Linked DNA regions of Homo sapiens: region 1 is linked to region 2. Evidence: fine-mapped expression QTL. A gene starts in region 2. The other region holds a variant in brackets. All regions are shown on one strand. Distances are from middle to middle. Region 1 overlaps PTGDR (prostaglandin D2 receptor). Region 2 holds the start of LINC02319 (long intergenic non-protein coding RNA 2319).

Region 1 (12,505 bases), 160 kb after region 2:
TAACAGCTACCTATTACAGCCGTATTCTGCTGTCCGTGGAGACGGTAAGATCTTAGGTTCCAAGATTTTACTTCAAATTACACCTTCAAAACTGGAGCAGCATATAGCCGAAAAGGAGCACAACTGAGCACTTTAATAGTAATTTAAAAGTTTTCAAGGGTCAGCAATATGATGACTGAAAGGGAAAAGTGGAGGAAACGCAGCTGCAACTGAAGCGGAGACTCTAAACCCAGCTTGCAGGTAAGAGCTTTCACCTTTGGTAAAAGAACAGCTGGGGAGGTTCAAGGGGTTTCAGCATCTCTGGAGTTCCTTTGTATCTGACAATCTCAGGACTCCAAGGTGCAAAGCCTGCTGCATTTGCGTGATCTCAAGACCTCCAGCCAGAAGTCCCTTCCAAATATAAGAGTACTCATGTTTATTTATTTCCAACTGAGCAGCAACCTCCTTTGTTTCACTTATGTTTTTTCCAGTATCTGAGATAATATAAAGCTGGGTAATTTTTTATGTAATTTTTTGGTATAGCAAAACTGTGAAAAAGCCAAATTAGGCATACAAGGAGTATGATTTAACAGTATGACATGATGAAAAAAATACAGTTGTTTTTGAAATTTAACTTTTGTTTGTACCTTCAATGTGTAAGTACATGCATGTTTTATTGTCAGAGGAAGAACATGTTTTTTGTATTCTTTTTTTGGAGAGGTGTGTTAGGATAATTGTCCAGTTAATTTGAAAAGGCCCCAGATGAATCAATAAATATAATTTTATAGTATTTTGCAGAGGAAATTACTTTTCTTTAAATGAAAGAAAAGGGCTTGGCTTTCTTTTTAGTAGACAGTTGCCAGCAATATTTCATTGTCTGGCAGTTTCCTAGTGTGGATTTTTATATACTGTCCGATTAACACTTACATTACTTTAAACAAGCTTTCATTACTTTACTTACATTTCATTACTTTACATTACTTTAAACAAGCTTAGGTAAGTCCTTAGACTCACCTAAGGACCTAGTGCTCCTTTTTGTTTCATACAAAATGTAGATATACCATCTGGATGAAGTCTGTGTTGAGTTAAAACCAACTCTTCGGTAATCTGTATAGATTTATTCATTAATTCATTAAATAATTTACAGAGACCTTGTGCCAAGCAGTTGATTAGGGGCTGAGGAAAGGAATAAAAATAAGACTCAATCATGGTTCATGAGTTGCTCGTTGTCCACTGGGGTAGAGAGGAATGTCAACAGTTAGGATACAGCATAGAAATTCTCCATAGTATTGCGAGTACGCATTTACTATTAGAAGAGGAGGCCCAAACTAGGGACCACGTGTAGGGTTGTCAGGAGAACTTCACAGGAAGAAGATGCATTGAAAGTCAAGTATTGAAAACGAGTAGGAATTTTGACTCTGAAAACTGAAAAGAACACAGAGAAAGTTTACATAAGAGAAAATACATATGGTTAATAAATGTAGAAAAATATTCAGCCTAATCAAGGAAATGCAAAAATAAAACCAAATTGTATATCAACAACAAGCAACAACAACAACAAAAAACCTATGACTCTCAATAACAGAGGTTATTCAGAGAAGAACATTCATGTTCCCCTGGCGAGTTCGTAAATGTGTATACCCTTTCTTGATAGCAACCCAACAGTGTATCAAGAACCTAAAGCGTTCTTTGCTGTTGTTCCAGTAATTCCACTCTAGCATTCTCTTGCAGAGAATAATCAGTAGTCCTGGACAAGCAGCAGTAGCAACACCTGAAACTTACTACAAATGCAAATTCTCCAGCTCCACGTCAGACCTGTTGAATCAGAATCTCTTGGGTGGGGCCAGCAATCTGGGCTTTAACATGCCCTCCAGGTGATTCTCATGCATGCTAATATTTGAGAACCACTGCTCTACACAAAACAAAAAAAGAAAAGAAAAGAAAAATACCAAAAAAAGACAAGTAAATATGTGATAGACTATGTTTCTCTGACCTCTGATTCTCAGATCCTTTCAGTTGCAGATAATCCCTCACACCTGAACTTCCACAGTGTTTTTATCTGTAATGTTCTCAGCAAAGTTACAGCTTTGTAAACTAGTTCAACCATTGTGGAAGTCAGTGTGGCAATTCCTCAGGGATCTAGAACTAGAAATACCATTTCACCCAGCCATCCCATTACCGGGTATATACCCAAAGGATTATAAATCATGCTGCTATAAAAACACATGCACACGTATGTTTATAGTGGCACTATTCACAAGAGCAAATACTTGGAACCAACCTAAATGTCCAACAATGATAGACTGGATTAAGAAAATGTGGCACATATACACCATGGAATACTATGCAGCCATAAAGAATGATGAGTTCATGTCCTTTGTAGGGACATGGATGAAACTGGAAACCATCATTCTCAGCAAACTATCGCAAAGACAAAAATCCAAACACCACATGTTCTCACTCATAGGTGGGAATTGAACAATGAGAACACATGGACACAGGAAGGGGAACATCACACACCGGGGACTGTTGTGGGGTGGGGGGAGCTGGGAGAGATAGCATTAGGAGATATACCTAATGTAAATGACGAGTTAATGGGTGCAGCACACCAACATGGCACAGGTATACATATGTAACAAACCTGCACGTTGTGCACAGGTACCCTAAAACTTAAAGTATAATAATAATAAAGTTTTAAAAAAAAGAAAAAAAATAATATATCTTTCAATACTGGCAGCCATTACTGATTCCCAAGTTCATCACTGATAGCAGTGATGAGACCTGTCTTGCTCACTTGGAGGTAAAGATACTACCCTCGGCAATGATATTTCTTTGGACTGCTGCAGACATTTAATTGGGCACTAAGCCTGATGCTGTTGTGAAGGAAGATAAACTAAAGAGCCTTTGTTTATGAAAATATTGTCAAAGATTATATTTAAAGTGAGCTTTCATTAGGGATTGAATATTTTCTAACTCTCTATAGGATAGAAATTTCCATTGAAATACGTAAAGCTATTTTTAAACTTTCATAATTTGACTTTTTTGTATATTTTCAGGAAAATATTATACATTGAATCTTTCTTTCCAGGCATTAAAATCCTTGAGGACTAGATAGTCACCTATTTTTTTCTCATTTCTCCTAGTAATTCACATATATACTGTAGAAGAGCTATAAATATACTATAAATATATTGAATAAAACGCGTTCTCTCTCATGATAGTCCTAAAATGTACGTCTATTCAATAAGAGGCTGCTGTATGCTTGGTTAAAGATTCCTCTGTATCTGATGAAGAATGTTCTCATATCACCATATAAGGATTTTTCTCTTAGGCCAACCAAAGGTGAAAATAGTACACGTAGGAGAAAATATTTTTGCTCTATATTATTTCCCACTGTTATCGACATTATGTAAGTTAACATGTATGTTTCAATTTTTATCCAGGAAATAGCAACTCGTACATGATGAAATTAACAACATAAAAAGTTTGTTAATTAGGCAATGTTAACATTGTAAAAACAACTTTGTCTTATTAGAACAGTGTTGACTGGCCTGCTCTTTAATTATTTTCTTCAGTGAGGCTAGGATTGCTGGTCTGGGTGTTCCCAGACTCTAGGTGGAGGAAAGCTGAGCACATAGGATGGGTGGTACTATAATTAGGCTTCCTCTCTCTACCGTTTCACAATAGCCAAATTCAGTGGAATGAATCAGCAGATCTCGCCTGATAACAGTGAGGTGAACATTCTAGTCTTCCAGATATTTTTATACAAACTGCACGAACTCAGGAGTAAGTCCAATCATAACAAACCTGCATGTTGTGCACATGTACCCTAAAACTTAAAGTATAATAATAATAAAATTAAAAAAAAAATTGCAATGAATGTGTTTAGAACCGATCATGCTCTGGTTAAAAATACAGGGAGAAGATATAAGCTTTTTTTTTTTCCTACTAAAATGCCTCAACCGGGGAAGGCAATAAAAATACAGTCAAGTCAAAGCTCAAATGAAAGTATATTTTAGGCAAAGCATAGGGTCCTATGATGATCTTAAACTGAGTAAGCACTTGGAATCTAATTGGAAACACAGGACAAACTAGAAGGTAAAAATCATACAGTGTAGTGCAAATGTTACAAAGTACTAAAGTATGAGTTATAGATTTTAAAACAATAAAGCCCCAAATCAGCGATAATTGATGTTTAAGATTAGTCTAGCGGTGCGTTGTATAAACACCTGGGCAAACAAAGTTGGTAGCTTGCCAGCATCAATTTCTTATCACTACAAAATAGAATATGGAAACAATAACTGTCATGACACACAATTCATAATGAATTTAGAAAATACTTTTTATTCCCCCCAAATTAAAAAACACCCAGAGTTCCCAATTAGATGAAAAAGATAAAGTACAATGATTTACTGATTATGATTGTGTGAAAGTAAAATAAATCTTGGGACCCCAAACTCACTAAACCAAACAGAAACGTCAAGCTGGGAACTGGGTCACGCCAACCTGCATCTCATTTTGGTTCCTAAATAAGATGGCTAAAATACGAAAAGCTACATACCTCCTTCACATTTTGTCCACACGGAAATTCCTTGGGGGCCCCAAGACCTTTTTCCTAAAGTGTTTCTGTTAGAGTGCATCATGGCAATGTGAATGGATAGCTTTTCTCCACAGGTGTGGGGACATAGGAGAGAACTCAGTCATCCCTCTGTCCACCTGAGACAAATGCATATCTGATTGTTTCCTCTGCTCTATCGTCTGCATTATCTACATATGTAAAAATGCAGATTCACTGAGCCAGACAAAGGCATGAATGACTGTTTTCCCCTACCCTCTTCTCACATGAAAATTATGTATTTCTCAATATCCTTCCCTTTCCCCTTTAGATATTGAAACCCTCAAAATCATCTATGGGGAAAGGAATAGACCTATCTCCCAGGTGTGTATCCTTAACTTTGGCAAATAAACCTCAAAAAATGATTGAGATTTTCCTGGGTCATTTTCCTTGATTGACCACGGAGGGATCCTGAGTGAAGGTGGCCCTGGCCTGCAGCAGCTCTCCTATTGGTACCAGATTGGGCTCTTTATAGCCCAAACCAATAAGACAATTTGTTGAGGTCTGGGACCTCCTCCCTGCAGGAAGTTGGGGCTCTGAGGTTTAATTTGATGTTTAAAAAAAAAAAAAAAACACCTCTTTTTTTTTTTCTGGGAGTTTTTGCTTGCTTCCATCAGGGAAGGCAAGCTTGTCTGCTTCTTCATCAGTGGAGAACAGTCTTCAGCTTGAGTCTCATCACTAGGTAAGGAGGTGAGTTGGGAATCTGTCTTGCAAATTCTCTTTAATAACTAAAGGTACTGTTAACAACCAGCTGGTCTTAATTTCTCCTTACATTTAGAGCACTCAAATTGTATAATTTGTGTGATTGCTGTTCGTTTTGCTTAGATGTCTTATTTACTTGTTTCTGTCTTGTTAGGTGTTTTTTTGTATGCTTCAGTCCTTCTCTTATTGGATTTGGCCAACTCTAAACCCTCTAGCTTATAGTATGGAATTTTCCTCTCCAAAGAAATAAGAGCTCGCCCTTCTCAGCCTTTCTTAGGCAACTGAGAATTACATGAGGGTGTCTGGAAGAAACACTCCCTAAGATGTGCAACGGCTCTGAGTAGGATTTCCCCTCAGAAGAACGTACTTAGGGTGTAATCTCAGCTAGCAGGTGCAAATAAGGAGCTGATCTCCCATGCCTTGAGCCCCTGACACACTGTGCCAGGTAGCCACGATACCAGTTCAGCGAGTAACGGCCCTGAAAAGCTAGGTCCCCAAGCAGCACACTTTGGATCCAACAAACCCTCCGACTTGGTCAAATCTGAAGGAAAACTCTAAATTATGTGGAAGGAGCCCTTTAAGTTGGCTGAAACCCCCACAGCTGTGGAACACAAAGTTCCACCCTTAGAAACTCTGGCCAGGTATATGCAAAAACACTTATGGTGAATTGTCATGCAAATATTTAATCAAGTGGACCACTATAATCAAGGCAGATTCTAACCTACAGAGGCCTAGATGGGGATCTTCTGAGATGCCCAAATTAGTGTACCTGTGAACTAGGATGCAAAACGCAGGCACAAAACTAAACAACCAGAATGGGAGAGCTACTTTCAATGGTACCTAGAGAGTAGCAAATGGGGGGAAGATCACCTCATGTCCTTACAATAAGCCAACAAACAACTTAGAAATGCTAACCAAGGACTCTCTAAAGTTCTATCTCTCTTAAAGAAATCCCCAGAATCCCTTACTTCCCTGTGGCACCTCCCCACCTCCACTTACACCCCCACTTTACCCCTGACCTCTCTGAACTTCCC[G/A]GACCAGATCTGTTCCCTCCTTCTCCTGCATGTTCTAATTTAACATCTTCCTCTCCTTGTACACCACTCACTCAACAGAAGGCAGTAGGGAGTCTAACTTCCAAGACCCTACCTCCTGACAATTCCCTGACAGTGCCAGTGGCAGCCTCTCATCTGGAAGATGTGGAAAAGGGGGACCCTGCAGGGCCATCTCTCATGATCACCCTGTTTTGGGAACAACCGGTAACACATAGGGGAACCCCGGTGATTGTCTACCAACGCTGGTCAAAGGCTGAGTTGCAGGGCATAAAGAATTTCTGGGCCCCCATAAGATCCAATTGAGTTTGCCCAAGAATTTGAATTCATTATCAGAACCTATGACCCAGGCCATTCAGACCTCTAACAGCTGGCACACATGTTGGTCTCGGAAGCTAAAGCTAAGGAATAGCTGGACAAAGTACAGTGGTCAGACCCTGTAGCAGACTTAACCCTTGAAGGCCCAATAGAGCTACAATAACCAGCCCCCAGAAGTCGAGAACACAGACACAAAGATGTGTGGGAATGAGCAACTGCTCTGTTAAATACCATTTCTTCAATATTCCAAAGGGTTGTGGATTGGGATAAAATCCAGCAATGCCACCAGAACCGAAATGAATCAATTTTAGATTATTTTATACATTTTGACTGAGATAATATGCTCCAAATAATTAACTTACACTCTCTCGCCTGGTCCTTCTGACGAAACCCCTCATGACTATGTTCTGATGACTGACCAACTTCTCACTTCTGGGACAGACTTACAAGAGATGCCACTGGATAATGCTGAGATAGAATGGTATACAGATGGGTCTTATTTAAGAGGATGGGGATGGAAATTTTAGAGCAGGATATGCTGTGGTCTCTTTACTAGAGGTAGTTGAAGCTGGTCCTCTTCCTCAAGCCAAATCAGCTGAAGGGGCCAAATTGATTGCCCTGACTCAAGCTTGTCGATTAGCAAAAGACAAGGCTGCAAACATACCCTGACACCTGCTAAGCATTTGGAGTTGCTCAGGACTTCGGAATGTGAAAGGAGAGAGGATATTTAACCTCCTCAGGGCAACCCATAAAAAATGGACAACCAACTCTCAGAGCTGTTAGAAACTATTCTCAACCAAAACTTTTGACAGTTGTAAAAATCCCAGGTCACTCTACATTGGACACCACTAAAAGTGGAGATAACAAATTTGCTATTGCTACAGCTGAAAAAGCAGCATTCAAGCCACCAGACCCAATCCAAAAAAATGATCATAAAGCCTGAAACACTTAAAAACATGTTGAAGGAAACCTAGAGTATAGCCCCAACAAAAGAGAAATCCACTTGGAAACAGACAGGGGAATACCTGTCTCCTGAAACTAAAATATTGTATGGACTTAATAATAAACCATTATTCCAATGGGATGTCAGGTGCCCCTTAAGGAATGTGTTAATAATCTGACACGATGGAATCCAGATAAAAGTATATCCTAGTGTAAACAATGTTACTGGAAACGATCCTCCACAGTGGCACAAAAGGTTTATTCCCAGTGTGCTATTTGTCCTAAGGATAATCCACGGAAGCTCCTCCATGAGGCCCAGGGTCATTTTCCCCTTCCAGCTGGACCTTTTGAGGTATGGCAGCTTGATTTTATCCAGCCGCCATCCTCTCAAGGTTACATGTCTTAGTAATGGTCTGCATGTTTTCCCATTGGGTTGAAGCTTTTCCCTGCAGGCAAGCAACAGCGATGGCAGTTGGAAAACTTTATTAGAAAAAATTATTCCACTGTGGGGAGTCCACTGTGAACTTTACGTGATAGAAGAACTCATTTTCCTGGTCAAGTTATTCAAAATATTTGTGAAATTTGGCCCATATTTCAACATTTCCATTGTGCCTACCATCCCCAGTCCTCAGAGCTGGCGGAAAGGACCAATGGAATAATTAAAACACAATTGGCTAAGTTCATAAATGGACTTCACCTCTGTTGGCCTAAAGCACTCCCCTGGTGCTTCTTACCCTCTGGTCCACCTTGGGAAACATCAACTATCCCCTTATGAAATTATAACAGGAAGGCCCATGTGTATGGGAACCAAAATAACCAACCCAACTTTTCTCAAGAGAGATATATTGCAGTATTATAAGGGACTCATTTGTCATCTTTACAAAAGCCAAGATTTGGTAAAGAATTCCTTTCATAGTCCACTCCCTGAAGACAAGGTTCCTGGTTATGATCTGCAGCCTGAAGACTTTGTCTATTGGAAAAGACATTTAATAAAGGACTCCCTTCAACCCCAATGGAAGGAGCCATACCAAATACTATTAACAAATCCATGTGCTGCAAAAACTAGACAGTATAAACTCATGGATTTACACCTCTCATCTTAAAAAGGCACAACCTCCTGAGTAGGCTGTAACTCCTACCAAGGATCTTCACCTGCAGCTCATTAACATTGAACTTCAATCCAGGACTAGGAGCAGACCATAGCTGTTGTGGACTGCTTAAACCTAAGACACAGGACCAGGCCTGTATACAAAAGAACACCTATGAAACCCAAGACACAGGACCAGGCCTGTATACAAAAGAACACCTATGTGTATTGTATGATAGCTATTACAATTATTGTCCTAGAGATACTGGCAACTGCTATCTTGTGCAGAACAGGGCATTTGCCTTGTCTGATTTAATGTCCTTTTAGTAGTTAAAATGAATTTCACAACCTTGCTCCTATTTACCCTATGTCTCTAAAACCTCTTGCCACTGTCACCCATTGTTGCCCATAAGACAAACCTGTTTCTACAATGGGCTCAGGATTATGCAGACAGATTATAAAAGGATGCCTGTGTGATATGCAGACTCATGCCTCTTTCCAGTGGCTCCAGCCTGCCATGGTGGGTATTTCCCTTACAAGGTCAAGACTAGCTAGAATACCAAAATTTATTACATCACAGAAATGGTTTCGTATCCTTAGTGCTGGCATAACAAAAGACTAAATATATATAATTTCCCCATTAAAAACACTCAAGAGCAAGGACATGGGAAAAGATTTTCAAGGGAAAGGACCAGCTCACCAGCTCTCACTTTAGCATTCCCCCAACTAAAAGAGAAGGTGGCAACCATGCCCCAAACAACAGCCCATTTTCAAAATGGGATAATGCAAATTTGGAATGGGTTTATCTGGTTCATCCCTTCATTTGGCCAACTCAGCCAAAATGCTCCTTTATGCTTGGAACGAAGAAACGACCCCAAGGACCAATGGCCAAACACTACAAGAGATATGGGGTGGATACCTGGAGAAATTGTATTGTGACCTGGAGAAATTGGTGGCAGAAGCTATTGCTTCCAATAATAATAATAATAATAATTTGTGTCATGTCCTGTTTTTGCTTACAATGTTATTATGGTATGTCCAGATTAGTCATCAACTGAAAGGGCTAGAATAATGATTGCCCAAAGAGTTGCTCTAATTGAGGAGGCAGTAGCATAGCCTGACCCAGCTTCCAGGTTTGCTTTCCCTTTTGCTGTATATCTGGTCTAGATCCCTATATTTTTAATTTCCTCTTACCTTCTTTCCTCCCCCTATTTTAATCTTCATGGGGCACGACCTGCTAAGAATGAGCCTTCCTAGCAAGGTGGGACCTGAATTTCTGGGAATAAACCATCCTAGCAATGAAGGACCAGCTCAAAAAAAAAAAGAAAAAGAAAAAAGCAAGCTGAGACCAGAGACACATTTTCCTTCTAAAATGCTTTCTCCAAATGATTTTAAAGAAAAAATGGGGGAAATGTGAAAATAAATCTTGGGACCCCAAACTCACTAAGCCAAAAGGAAAAGTCAAGCTGGGAACTGGGTTATGCAAGCCTGCCTCTCATTTTGGTTCCTAAATAAGATGGCTACAAGATGAAAAGCTACATACCTCCCTCACAAGGAAATTCCTTGTGGTCCCCAAGATCTTCACCCTAAAGCATTTCTGTTAAAGTGCATCATGCAAATGTGAATTGATAGCTTTTCTTCACAGCTGCGGGGAACATAGGACAGAACTCAAAGTCATCCCTCTGCACACATTGTTTCCTCTGCCCTATTGTCTACATTAATCTTATGTAAAAATGCAGATTCACTGAGCCAGACCAAGGCAGGAATGGCTATTTTCTCCTACCCCTCTCACATGAACATTGGGTATTTCTCAATATCCTGCCCTTTCCTCTTTAAATATTGAAGCCCTCAAAATCATCTTCAGAGAAAGGCATAGACCTGTTTCCCGGTTGTGTGTCCTTAACTCTGGCAAATAAACCTCCAAAAATGAATGGGACTTGCCCTGGTCATTTTCCTTGATTGACAATTGGCACATCCAAAAGAAAAATGACAGCCCCCTGCTAAAAGAGCTAAAGATAAAAATGGAACAAAGATTTATACTTCAAATGTGAACATAAAGTAATATTAGGCTAAGCAGAACTTAAGGCAGTAAGTTTTATGGTTAAAAAGTCAATATGTGGTCGGCCCCATGTGTGCAAGTTGCTATGGTGGAAGTCAAAGGGGAAACAACAATTCACAGGAAAGAGTACAAAGGCATCACAAAAAAATAAAACTGATTTCATAAACACGGTGATTCTGGTTCTTCAAAGACATTTCCAAGAAAAGTTGCTAAGGAAGGTGAATCTAAAGCCACATCTAAGAACTTTGAGAAAAGTGTCACAAAACCAGGGGAAAGGGTGCGAAGCAGTTGAAGAATAAGCAACAATGGGACAAAGCACCAAGGAACAAATTCCAGCCAGCAAATAAATTCAACAAGAAGAGGAAACTCCAGCCAGATGGCAAAAGTGGTGAATCAGCAGCCAAGAAACCCAAATGGGATGACTTCAAAAAGAAAAAGAAAGAACTGAAGCAAAGCAGGCAACTCAGTGATAAAAGTAACTATGACACTGTTGTGTGGGCAAAGCAGATTTGGAAGACTTTAAGAAGAAAAGACTGACAAAGAAAAAAGAGTAAAGTTAATGAATGACTTGCAGAAGTTGATTCAAGGGAAAATTAAAACTATTGCATTTATTAGCTGGACATGTTGGCACATTCCTGTAATCCCAGCTACTCAGGAGGCTGAGGCATGAGACTCCTTGAGCCTGGGAGGCAGAGGTTGCAGTGAGCTGAGATGGTGCCACTGCATTCCAGCCTAGGGGACAGAGCAAGACTCTGTCTCAAACAAACAAACAATTGCATTTGCAAATGATTCAACTCATGTGATCCAGTGTTACATTCAGTGTGGTAATGAAGAACAGTCAAAACAGGCTTTTGAAGAATTGGGAGATAATTTGGTTGAATTAAGTAAAGCCAAATACTCCAGAAATATTTTAAAGAAATGTCTCACGTTGTGAACATGTACCCTAGAACTTAAAGTATAATAAAAAAAAAAAAAAAAGGAAAGTATCTTGCACAAGCTCACGTAGCTGGTAAGTTACATAGTTGGGATCTGAATTCAGTTGTGGCTTCATGCCTGAGCTTTTAACTACTACTACTAAACTGAGAAGGCACTTGCTTGAGTAAATTATGTCATCCTCTTAATGAAGCATTATGCAGCTGTTAAAGATGATAGATGTAAAGGTTATGAGGCAACATGAAAATATAACTCATTTATTCAATAAATGTTTGTTTCTAAATATATTCATTTGCTGAATGAATAAAATGTTAAGCCAAAAAAAAAAAAAAAAAAAGAAATGTCGCATGTATGGAAGTCAACCACAGATTGCAGAGATAATGAGAAGTTTAAAAGGCCCCGTGAGGAAGATGCTGTGGCAGGCAGAAACATCAGCCATCATGTAGGACACATATAATGACAAAGCCACTTTGGAGCAGAGGAACATGCTGACGAAAGAGTTCTATGGGAACACATTTCACCTTTACAAGTCAGTCGATCACCAACTCCAGACAAAGTATTAGGGGTACAGCCAGAAAAATTAAGAGCTTATTATGGATGAAATGAAACAGATTCTAACTCCAGTGGCCCAAAAGGAAGCTGTGATTAAGCATTCATTGGTGCATATTCTTGGACTTTTTTTTTCTTTTTTTTTCACCTATGCACCCCCCAAACTCAGATCAGAAATGATTGAAGTCATCCACAAAGCAGTGGTATACCTGGCACACACACACACGAGGGCATGGCTGGCCATGGGCCTGTGGCATGGCATGCCCAAGGAC
Region 2 (12,505 bases):
TTGATAGTTGAGGTCAGGTATCTCTATTGGTTTAATGTATGGAAAATGGAAAGGAAAAAAGAGAGGAAGGAAGATTGAGGAGAGGAAGGAAAAGGTAGAGGAGGACAGGCATGGGGAGGGGAAAGGAAAAGAGAGAAAAGGCAAGCAGAGGAGAGAGCAGGAGAGGAAGAGAAAGGGGAGGAGAGAGAAAAAGGGGCAAGTCAGGATGAAGAAGAATCATGGCTAAGACAGAAAAGGAGGTAAGAGTACCAAGATAGTCAAATAATCTCAAAAGCCAAAGAAGGGTGCCTTTCTAAAAAGAAATTTTAATCATTAGTGAGACTGGCGGTTGGAAAAGCCCACTGAATATGCATGATGTCATGTACTGTACATTCACAACACACACAAGGCCACATTCAATCTGTTGACCTTGAGGGCAGAGCACAAGGCTCAGTTGTTCCCGCCCTGCCCCAACCCCCAGCGTTTGCCTCTGAAGAGAAGGAGAAGTCTGTACTGGGAGAGTTGGAATTCTTGAATCAGGCTAGTTGTTAGCTATGTTGTGAAATGGGCTCATTTTCAGAAACTAAAAAATTCATTTCTGCTGATAGTCACTGTAGTAAGTAGATGAGGGGTCACTCTAATAAGTAATAGGCTTGAGCGAAAAATGGGTCCCTAATTTGCTGTCAGGGATGGAGTGACAAAACCAGGATCCACCAATGGAGAGGAAACAGCCCAGCTTGGAAGGAATGATTTGTACCCCAACCAACACTGTGATGCAAACACAATTTGGGTGCCTCCTTTAGTGACATCAAGAAAAAGAAACCTAATATGTAGCCATATTAAACAAACTGAAATCCACAAATCATGTTAATCATGGGGCAATTTCATAATGGCATGGATTAAGTGGTGATGACATTACAAATATAAACAGAAGGAACATCTTTAAAAAGTCCAAAAAAATTGGAATTTGTCTGTGTACTACCAGAGTCACCTGGAAGAGAGGGTTCCTGGGTTCTAGATAATTGGTAGTGACAATATAAAGATAAATCATCCTATAGAAAAGATGGTTACTTCATGAGATAATTTTTCTCTTTTCATTTGTTTTGAATATTCAGTTTCCTTTTTTGCCATACCCTATGATTACTAAGATTTATTTTTTCCATTGTTTTTAAATTATTATTATTTAGAAATAATTTAGATTTTTAATTATTCACAAGGAATTTACTATTTTCTCTATTTTTGAAAACCTTTATGATTTATTTTGAAAAACATAGACATTTTCAAACTTAGAAAGAATAGTACAAGGAACTCACATGCACCTGTTACCCCATTTCAACAATTAATCAGCAGTCTGCCACTTAAAAAAACAGCTATTCTTTCTTTTTTACCTCTCCTCTTCCTATTTTTTTTTCCTGGAGTATTTTAAAGCAAATCCTGGACATCATATCAACTCACCAGTAAATACATCAATATGTATTCATCTTTTACCAATACGAACTTTTTAAAAACTGGCAATCGTGCCATTATGACAGTAATACAACTTATAATAACTTCTTTATATAATTGAATACTAAGTCTATGTGCAAATTTCTCTATCTCAAAGATGTATTTTATAGTAGGTTTGTTTAAATCAGGATCCACACAAGGTCTAGACATCAGTTATTCCATCTCTTAAGTATCTTTTATTCTCTAAAAATTTATCCCTCTTTTTATATGCAATTATTTTTTGGAGAAACTGGATTGTTTGGTTTGTAGAATATCTCATTCAGGATTTGGTTTATTGCATCTTCATAGTCTTGTTTAAATTGTTCTATTTCTTTTGTTTTCTTTAAACTGGTAGTTAAACCTACTGACTTGATAAGATTTTTAGGCAAAAATACTTCTAAGTGGTGGTATGTTTTTTCTACTGCACAACATCATTATATGGTCCAGTTGTACTTTTAATGATACCAAGATTGGTGATTGGGTTTTGATGAGAGAAGCCTAATATTTCCATTATGAAGTTCTTTGTCAACTTTTAACCTGTATTAGCAAACGGGTTAAAAGCGACTCATAATTGTTGCCTGGATTCATTTTATAGGGATTGCAAAATGATGATTTTCTAATTCTATCATTTCTTCTGCATTTATTCATTGGAATTATCCTATAAAGAGCTTCCCCTCATCAACAATGTGGTTACCCTTAAATATAGTACATACAAGAAAGGCAGAATAAATCCTTTATATTTCCCTTTTCAATACATTTTTGAGTAATTTTAGCAGCCTCCAAAGATGACCAAGGAGGAATTTTAAGTCATTAAATACTCATGAATTTTTAGATATCTGATGTATTTTAATTCTTTCTCACACACAAATTATCCCATTTTTGGCCAGTGGGAGCCCCTTAATGGCAGTTCTTGTGTCTTTCTGATATGACCCTAAAACTGCCTTTACAAAGTTATGACAGTAAGAGAAAGCTGGCATAGCTGACTCCATCTTGCTTCTAACCTCCAAGCTGTCATTGCTGGGCATAGGTCAAGCTAACTTTGGGAGGATTTTAGTTTACAGTTTAACCTTAAAGCAAGGATGATAATAGCCACTCCCAAAATTAAACCACCTTTGTAAAAATAACGGAAGACCACAAGATTAGGATTATGAGAAGGGCCTGAATTCTGGTTAAGATACAGGCATAGTTAAACAACAACCAGCCATTGTTCCAGAGGTCACAATATGTGTAACTTCTCCAATTATTCCTGTAGATAACATCACTATCGTAGAACCTAAGACTGGCCTTTTGAGATGTTTTTAGACTTTTACATTTATGGCAACCAACTGACTCTACCCAGACCATGACTCGTGACTGAAATGGTCCTGTGGCCCCCATCCAGAGGCTGACTCAGCACATAAGGACCATTTTTCCAGGCTCCTATGACTGCATCCCCAACTAATCAACATTTCCCATTCCCTAGCCTCCTGCCCACCAAACTCTCCTTGAAAAACTCTAACCTCCAAGCCTTCAGGAGACTGACTTGAATAATTCCAGTTCTTCTACGTGGCCGGCCTCGTATTAATTAAACTCCTTCTTTACTGCAATACTGTGGTCTCAGTGAATGGGTTTTGTCTCTGCAGCAGGCAGGAAGAACCCATTGGATAACTACAGCCCCATTTGTTTTGAAAGGCTTTCTTGTTTCTTCTTTGACACAAAACAATGTCCCAGACTCACCTTTTAATTTTTGCCCTAGACTTGGAATCAAGCATTTTTCTAAAGAGCTCTAGTTCCTGTTAGTTGGGAATAGTGAGAGGTGACAGCGTGCTAGCAGTCCTCACAGGCCTCGCTCCTTCTCGGCGCCTCCTCTGCCTGGGCTTCCACTTTGGCGGCACTTGAGGAGCCCTTCAGCCCACCGCTGCACTATGGGAGCCCCTTTCTGGGCTAGCCAAGGCCGGAGCCAGCTCCCTCACCTTGTAGGGAGGTGTGGAGGGAGAGGCACGGAGCGGGAACCGGGGCTGTGCGCGGCGCTTGCGGGCCAGCTGGAGTTCCAGGTGGGCGTGGGCTTGGCGGGCCCCGCACTCCGAGCAGCTGGCCGGTCCTGCCGGCCCCGAGCAATGAGGGGCTTAGCACCCAGGCCAGCAGCTGCAGAGGGTGTACTGGGTCCCCCAGCAGTGCCAGCCCACCGGCGCTGCGCTCGATTTCTCACTGGGCCTTAGCTGTCTTCCCGCAGGACAGGGCTCCGGGACCTGCAGCCCGCCATGCCTGAGCCTCCCACCCCCTCCATGGGCTCCTGTGCGGCCGAGCCTCCCTGACAAGCGCCACCCCCTGCTCCAGGGCGCCCAGTCCCATCGACCACCCAAGGGCTGAGGAGTGCAGGCGCAGGGCACCGGGACTGGCAGGCAGCTCCACCTGCAGCCCTGGTGCGGGATCCACTGGGTGAAGCCAGCTGGGCTCCTGAGTCTGGTGGGGACGTGGAGAACCTTTATGTCTGGCTCAGGGATTGTAAATGCACCAATAGGCACTCTGTATCTAGCTCAAGGTTTGTAAACACACCAATCAGCACCCTGTGTCTAGCTCAGGGTTTGTGAATGCACCAATGGACACTCTGTATCTAGCTACTCTGGTGGGGCCTTGGAGAACCTTTGTGTCCACACTCTATGTAGCTAATCGAGAGGGGACGTGGAGAACCTTTGTGTCTAGCTCAGGGATTGTAAACGCACCAATCAGCGCCCTGTCAAAACAGACCACTCGGCTCTACCAATCAGCAGGATGTGGGTGGGGCCAGATAAGAGAATAAAAGCAGGCTGCCGGAGGCAGCAGTGGCAACCCGCTCAGGTCCTTCTCCACAATGTGGAAGCTTTGTTCTTTCGCTCTTTGCAATAAATCTTGCTACCGCTCACTCTTTGGGTCCACGCTGCTTTTACAAGCTGTAACACTCACCACAAAGGTCTGCAGCTTCATTCCTGAAGCCAGCGAGACCATGAGCCCACCGGGAGGAGCGAACAACTCCAGACGCGCTGTCTTAAGAGCTGTAACAGTCACCTCGAAGGTCTGCAGCTTCACTCCTGAGCCAGCGAGACCACGAACCCACCAGAAGTAAGAAACTCTGAACACATCCGAACATCAGAAGGAACAAACTCCAGAGGCGCCACCTTAAGAGCTGTAACACTCACCGCGAGCGTCTGCGGCTTCATTCTTGAAGTCAGTGAGACCAAGAACCCACCAATTCTGGACACAATAGGATTTAAAAACCACAATCTGGATGCTTATTGTGTTAATTACTGCTGAGTTGTCATTCCTTTTAGACTTTTTCAAGGGACAGAGCAATGAAATATGCATTTTAAAATTTATTTTAAAAGATAAAATGAGTTTATAGTGATATGTCCAATTCAAACGTTAGATTATAAAATTTTTACTTACCTTCTTTGATTTTATTTGCTTATTTGAGTAATCTTACTGTTACTAGTTATTCTGATGTTCTAGAATCATTTATATTTGAAGCAACAGCCAAGGTTTATCAATGCCTGAAAAGTGAAACAGAAATGATAAAGAAAATAAAGGAAAACATCAATGCAGAAAGGAACTATAGTAAATATCTTTAGGGATGTAAAAGAAGATATTATCTCCATGGAATTATTGCAGAGAACTCTTAACCTAGGTTCAGTAGTCTTATTGCCTATTATTTTTAAGCTATATATGTGTTGTAAGCTAAAGTTGACAAGTAATTATGTTAATATAGAGACTGAGCTTTTCAGCATAGGAACAACAAGATACAAATATAAAATCAAATAAGCAAAAACCCTGTAATCATAAAAAATTGGGAAATGTTATTGAAAGACCACCATCTGGACACAAGGGCTCCTTGGGAAAACACCACAAGAATGCAATAAGCCAAAGCTCGAAATTCTACAGAACCTATTATCTGATTTCTTCTACGAATGAATAGCATGAAAAGAAGAGAGGAACTAACGTGTATTTTGTATAGATCTTACTTGGTTTCCAACTCAAGCCAACTTCAAAAAAGACATTTTAGACAACAAGAGAAAGTGGATCACTGGGCATTACGTGAGGTGAAAAAATTACTAGTTTTGTTACATATAATAGTAGTACTGTTATTTGTTAAAACTCCTTATCTGCTAGCAATATATTTTGAAGACTTTACAGATGACATGATACTTCGAATGTGTTTTTACATATCTAGAAAAAAACTGGAAGGGACATAAGTGAAACAAACTTGGTCAGATATCGAAGTTAGGTGGTGTGGGTTCATCATACTATCCTCTAATTTTTGTATGTTTGAAAATATCCTTAATTTTTAAAGGTTAAAAAAAGACTTTATTTAGAAACACTAAAGAAGACAAAAATAAATGGAGAGATATAAGGATGCTTTAAAAAGGTAATTAATTAATTACATTATTTAAAAAGCACAAGAAGACAAGAAAGAATCCAGCTCAAATCCTATGTCCCAGGGTCCAGCAACTAGCAGGGTGTGTCTAAAATTCCCCCAAAGCCGCAGCTGAGGACCTGAACTGGAGGGCAGATGTCCCTCCACCCTCCTTCCTAGGGCAGCAATTAGCACTCCAGTCTTCTGGTTGGAGGCTCTTTGTAGCCTCATAGTTCACAGAGCCCTTTTGGACATGGAGTGAATAGTTGGTTACATTCTCCACATTATTATGCAGATGACATTGCTCATGGTGGATACTAGAGCTGGGGCAGCTGATGAGGAAATCACCAGGGGTGGCTCAGAAAAAAAAAAAATGACCTCCCTAAGGGACACTACAGGAAACCAGCCCCGAAGTGATTTCTTTTGAAATTCGGGGCAGCAGCAAGCTCATATTTCTTTTGGTTAGTTCCTTCACCATGGTTGCCAGTCTCAGTAAAGCTGAGTGTTCCTATCTCCGCCTCTGTCTCCCTCATCAGCTATTGTTTTACCTCACCCACCCAAGGTATGGGAGGCCTCCATTCCATTTAGAGAGCTCCTGGTGCTTCCTGGTGGCTGGTGATGATTCATTTTTATTCCCTTGAATCTTCCCCACGGCCAGATCATTGTTGTCCATATCCTTCCCTCCAGGAAACAACAAAAGGCAATATTTGGTCTTTTGGCTGGAGTCTATGCCGGACCAACACATCCCACAAATGGCTTGAGCTGAGGGTTCCTCCAGCCCCCTGAGATTTCCCAAAGCATTTCGAGATAAACTCTAATAGTAGGATACATTTGCTTTCCAGTTGAAGTGATGGGTTATATGATTCATCTGTTTCCTAAGATTTCCAGTTATAGTCATGAAATCTGGCCTCTGCCCCTGATGTAAAATCCTTGTGTTTACAAGAAGTAACCTAAGTAACCTACCACATGTTCAGAGTTGGAAACCTACTTCCTGTCCCCCGAGTTTGTAAACCCAGCAAGATATATTTTCTCTTTTCAGCCATGCTTGAAAAGTTGGTATAACTGAAATAAGTTTTAAATAAGGCAAATTGGAATAAACTCCAACTCAATGATTTCATCTTCCCAATCCTGCCCCAAATCATGGCCATATCAGTGGGATTTCCAATTGCAAACAGCACCAAACAACACCAAATTCATGTTAGCAAATTTTAAGGATGAGAAGTGACCTCAGCCATCCAGAATTGGATTTGTAGCAGATGACAAATAAGATGCTTAGAATCACAGACCATCAGAGATGGCCGACTTGAGCCAGCATCGACCCTCTCCTTTCACAGGTGAGAAAACTAAAGTCCAAAGACAGTCTTATTTTAAAGCCTAAATTGCAGGGGTAGCGAGTGAAACCAGTTTCAAAATGAGGTTTACCACAGAGGAGCCCAAACCCACTCTCTCACTCATGTCACATTCTGAAGTGTCCTTCTTACTGGTTTCCAACTCTTCACCTCTCTCTTCTTATCTCTTCCCCCTGCCCTCCACACTGCTCCCTGCTGCAGCCACTTTCTCTGCAGCACAGCCCTGATCATATCTCCCCTGGCTCAAAACTATTCCATAGTTCTCGGCCTTGGCTGTTCCCAATGACATTCCAGTTGAACTTCATACTTCACTCGCGTGCCCTGCCCAGTCCATATGGAAAAGTAGCTGCTCCCAAGAGATCTTTGTGCCTATCTCTTTTCCCATGTGATTTTCTCTGCCCAGAAGATTCTTTCTCTTTAACAGGCAAGATCCACCTACCCTTTAGGGGCTCGGTTCAGATACCATTTCCTCCACAAATGCTTCATTCACTCTCCTAAGTGAAAGCCAGTTCTCACCTTTTTGTCTCTTTGCACTGTAGATCTCTATTTTGGCAGGTAACACATTCTATTTCATGTAATACTGTAGTTAATTACGAACATTCTGCATCTTCCCACTTGACACTAAATTCCTGTAAGTGAGAAACTAGATCTTACTTACAACCCCAGCACAGTTATTTGTTTAGCGTGAACATCATTTTTTAAAATTAAATTGGGTTGAAATCCACTATCTTTGGAAACCCAACAGCATTTAGGCATATAATTCTAAAGAGCTGAAATTTAATGTTTTATGTACTTCTATCCTTGATAATCTCAGGTACGCTGAAGGACATTTTTATCTCCTATAATGTGTCATGGATAAAAATAGGGAGCATTCTTTTTTCATTGCTATTAGGTCATGCTCATGTTCAACTTATTTTCTAGAGATGGGGTCTCACTATGTTGCTCAGGTTAGTCTCAAACTCGGCTCAAGCAATCCTCCTGCCTCAGTCTCCCAAAGTGCTGGGATTACAGGTGTGAGCCACTGTGCTCAGCCAACATGTATTTATTTAATACACCTAGAAGGCAGGAAACACTGTGTAGGTTGCTGCCGGGGTAGAGAGGTGAATAAAATCTGGGACCCAGACCATAAAATAGTTGTGATGGGGGGCCAGGTGCGATGGCTCACGCCTGTAATCCCAGCACTTTGGGAGGCCAAGGCGGACAGGTCACGAGGTCAGGAGATCAAGACCAGCCTGGCCAACATGGTGAAACCCCATCTCTACTAAAAGTAAAAAAAATTAGCCGGGTGTAGTGATGTGCGCCTATAGTCCCAGCTACTTGGGAGGCTGAGGGGGGAGAATTGCTTGAACTCAGGAGACGGAGGTTGCAGTGAGCCGAGATCAGGCCACTGCACTATAGCCCAGGCAACAAAGTGAGACTCCATCTCAAACAAACAAACAAACAAACAAAAATAGTTGTAATGGGTTTACTTTCACAGCTGTGAACTCAAGGGCCATCCCAGGCATCAACTCTTAGACATTTCACAAATAGCAACTGCTAATCACCCCTGTCTGCTATTAAAGAAAGTTGTGAAAGACTAACAGCCTTAGGAACTACCCTTGGTAAGGAATCAGAAGATCATGGGTCTACTTCAGACGGACTCTACCAAATTTCTCTCAGCATGGCCTTGGACAAGTTGCTTATTTCTATTCATCTTCCTCATCAGCAAAACAGACTCTTCATGAAAGGGCTCTTCATGGGTTCCTTCAAGGACATAGGTGTGTTAAAGCAAAATAAATATAGCCTGAGAAGGACTCCATTCTTCTATATTTGAGTCCTTGGGGATGAACTGTAACCTAGCTTAATAAACAAGATTGAAAACCTAACTTAGGAGTATGCATCTGTAACAATAGCTGAGTCTTGGCCAATCCCAGCAGCCATACTTCAACTACTCACACACTGATGAGTGTTCAGACTGTGTTCAAAAAAGGCAAATGCCGGCCGGGCGCGGTGGCTCACGCCTGTAGTCCCAGCACTTTGGGAGGCCGAGGCGGGCGGATCACGAGGTCAGGAGATCGAGACCATCCCGGCTAAAACGGTGAAACCCCGTCTCTACTAAAAATACAAAAAATTAGCCGGGCGTAGTGGCGGGCGCCTGTAGTCCCAGCTACTTGGGAGGCTGAAGCAGGAGAATGGCGTGAACCCGGGAGGCGGAGCTTGCAGTGAGCCGAGATCCCGCCACTGCACTCCAGCCTGGGCGACAGAGCGAGACTCCGTCTCAAAAAAAAAAAAAAAAAAAAAAAAGGCAAATGCCAACCTGCAATCAATCCAGCTGTTCTGTGCGTCACTTCCGGTTTCTGTAGGTCATTTCCCTTTTTTTGTCTATAAATCTTCTTCCACCACGTGGTTGTGCTGGAGTCTCTGTGAATCTGCTGTGACTCTGGGTGCTGCCCCATTCGCAAATTGTTCATTGCTCAATTAAACTTCTTTAAATTTAATTCAGATGAACTTTTTCTTTTATCAGGTGTCACCTAACATACAAGTTTTTGGACTAATTCTGCAAACATATGGTATGAATTAAAGCAGTGGTTCTCAAAGTGTAGTTCCCAGACCGGTAGCATCTGTTGGGAACGTGATAGAAATGCACATTCCCAGGCCCCATCCTTAACGAACTGAATCAGAAACTCTGGGGCTTTTTGTCTGGGGGAACGTTGGGTTCTGGTGCTTCCTCTTTTCCAAGTGGAGGGTGGTGCTGATGCTGTGGGCAGCTGAGTTGGGGTAGGCTCTCCCCATCCTACCAGCTCATCCTCCAGACTAGGCTAGAGTCAGCTCGCCTAGCTCCTGAAATACTTCTGCTTGCCAAGGCACCAGGAGCCCATAACACCTACTCTGTGAGCTTTCCTCACAGAGGGAAGGCTCTGTCTGAGGTTTAGTGAACAATGATTGCGAAAATACTTTGAAAATTGAGAGGGGCCATGCAAATGTAAATATTGTTAAAGTTGCCAACTCTTTAGGAAAGAGATGTGTGAAACGGGAAAAGAGAATACAAGGAAAAGACACTGGTGACAGATTCTATAAACTACTCTTAACTCCTGAAGAATCGCCTTTTTCATTCTATACACAGCTTCCCTCCCTTCATTTTGTCCCGCTTGTCTACAAATGTAACAAATGTGCGAGGTTCGGTGGCTCACGCCTGTAATCCCAGCACTCTGGGAAGCGGAGGCAGGCGGGATCACCTGAGGCCAGGAATTCGAGACCAGCCTGGCCAACATGGTGGAACCCCATCTCTACTAAAAATACAAAAAAAAAAAAAAATTAATTAATTAGGCTTACTCCAGCTACTCAAGAGTCTGAGGCACGAGAATCCCTTCAACCTGGGAGGCAGAGGTTGGAGTGAGCTGAGACCGTGCCACTGCACTCCAGCCTGGGCGATCAGTTTGAGAGTCGGTCTCAAAACAAAAAAGAACCTGAATTGTTTGGCCGGGTGCAATTACTGATGCCTGTAATCCTAACACTTCAGGAGACCGAGCCAGGCGGAACGCTTAGGTCCAGGAGTTCGAGACCAACATGGGCAGCACGGTGAAACCCCATCTCTACAAAAATTGCAAAAATTTACCGGGTGTGGTGGTGTGGCGCCTGTTGTCCCAGCTACTCAGATGCTGAGGTGAGAGGATCGCTTGAGCTTGGGAGGTCGAGGATGCAGTGAATCCAGATCGTGCCACTGCACTCCAGCCTGTGTAACAGAGAGAGACTGTATCTAAAAATAAAAAATAAAAAAAAAATTAAAAAGAATCTGAATTGTAGTTCAGACCCATAACCTACCACACACAAGAATCTCATCCTCTTCACTCCTGCCTAAGAGAGACAGATTTGTTCTTTACCAAATGCAAAGTTATCTGGTCTCTTTAATTTCTTCTCTCCCTCTTCTGGCAAACTGCCTAGGCGAAGACACTTTCCAGATCAAGCGGTGTCATGGGGCAGCAAATGACCTTAAGTCATTAAAACAGAGTTTTAGTGACTCTGCTGCTGTTTACTACACAACCTTGGGCAAATCCCATCTTGACTTCAGAGTATTTGAGTGGAATGTATGCGTAGTATTTGTAAACTAAAAACATTTACAATATAAGTGATAGATCATATTGCTGTTAGCAAAGCACAGGTTGCCTAGTAAAAGTATCCTGGTCAAGATCTTTGGTTTTCAAAAGAAGAGCATTTGTAGACAAAGGAGGAAGTCATGTTTATTTGTAGTAATTAAATGACAGGGGAACAAATCAAGACACCTACTTTCCTGAATGTTTATTCAAAACATGGTAGAATTAGTGGTTAGTGGCTAGCAGAGCCTCATATCTGCTCCTGTTCTCCGTTGGCTGTAATACAGTGTTTCTTTTTTTTTCTTTTTTTTTTTTTTTTTTTTGGAGACAGAGTCTCACTCTGTCACCCAGGCTGGAGTGCAGTGGCTCGATCTCGGATCACTGCAACCTCTGCCGCCCGGGTTCAAGCAATTCTCCTGCCTCAGCCTCCCAAGTAGCTGGGATTACAGACGCCTGCCACCACGCCCAGCTAATTTTTGTATTTTTTAGTAGAGACGGGGTTTCACCATGTTGGCCAGGCTGATCTTGAACTCCTGACCTTGTAATCCACCCACCTCAGCCTCCCAAAGTGCGGGGATTACAGGTGTGAGTCACCGCGCCAGGCCCTACATGTTTCGATTGACATAAGAAAATCCAGCCTTGCGCAGATAAGTAGTTGGAAAAAGAAGGGGTATTTCAACAGCTTTTCAGATATTTTTGTGGCCAATTAAAAAAAAAACAAATTACCAAAATGTTAGTTTTTGAAAGATTAGTAGTAATATGGAATCTGAAACCATATCAATGAACTTTTTGTACTCTGTTATATTAAAATCCATTTATTGTCTTACACTTTGAATAGATCTTTTAATTTACTATGTGTAGGGTAAAATAGTCATTCAGTGAGTTATGCAAATCATCACCATTTTGACACATTTCATTATACAATACAAAAAATATCAAATTTATTAATATCACCATCAGATTGATCAGAAAAGTCTTCAGATATGAACTTGTGAAGCTCACTGTGGTAGATACAAGTTTTCTAGATTTCCAAGTTTTGCTTGAAAGCTCACATTTTGTCATTAACACACATACTGTAGTTACTTGTTTTCCTTAAAGGGATAAGCTCACTTTATTTTTGAGAAAACATCAGCCAAATACTGAAGTCTGAAAAACCATAATTTCTCTGTCAGTCACTTTTTTAGTTTTTTTTTTTTAAAGTAAAATTGATGTTCCCCAAAAAGGGAGGAATCTTGTATATGTTGCAGAAGTGTTTT

The links. PIP is the estimated chance that this variant, and not a neighbour inherited with it, causes the effect. A credible set is the group of variants that fine-mapping cannot tell apart.
Region 1: its variant is the best candidate, but not a certain one, in a credible set for the expression of LINC02319 in whole blood (INTERVAL, PIP 0.60).

The regions. Positions count from the first base shown.
Region 1 is chr14:52,275,956-52,288,460 of GRCh38, forward strand. PTGDR (prostaglandin D2 receptor) reads left to right here. Exons shown (of 2, transcript NM_000953.3): 2 at 1-769. It also overlaps the pseudogene LOC100131689. Among named protein-coding and RNA genes, the nearest start is that of PTGDR, 15 kb to the left of the region's middle. The variant G/A (reference allele first, on the strand shown) is at 6,331.
Region 2 is chr14:52,118,807-52,131,311 of GRCh38, forward strand. It overlaps LINC02319 (long intergenic non-protein coding RNA 2319), which reads right to left and starts at 6,691. Exons shown (of 3, transcript NR_187197.1): 1 at 6,388-6,691; 2 at 4,867-4,970.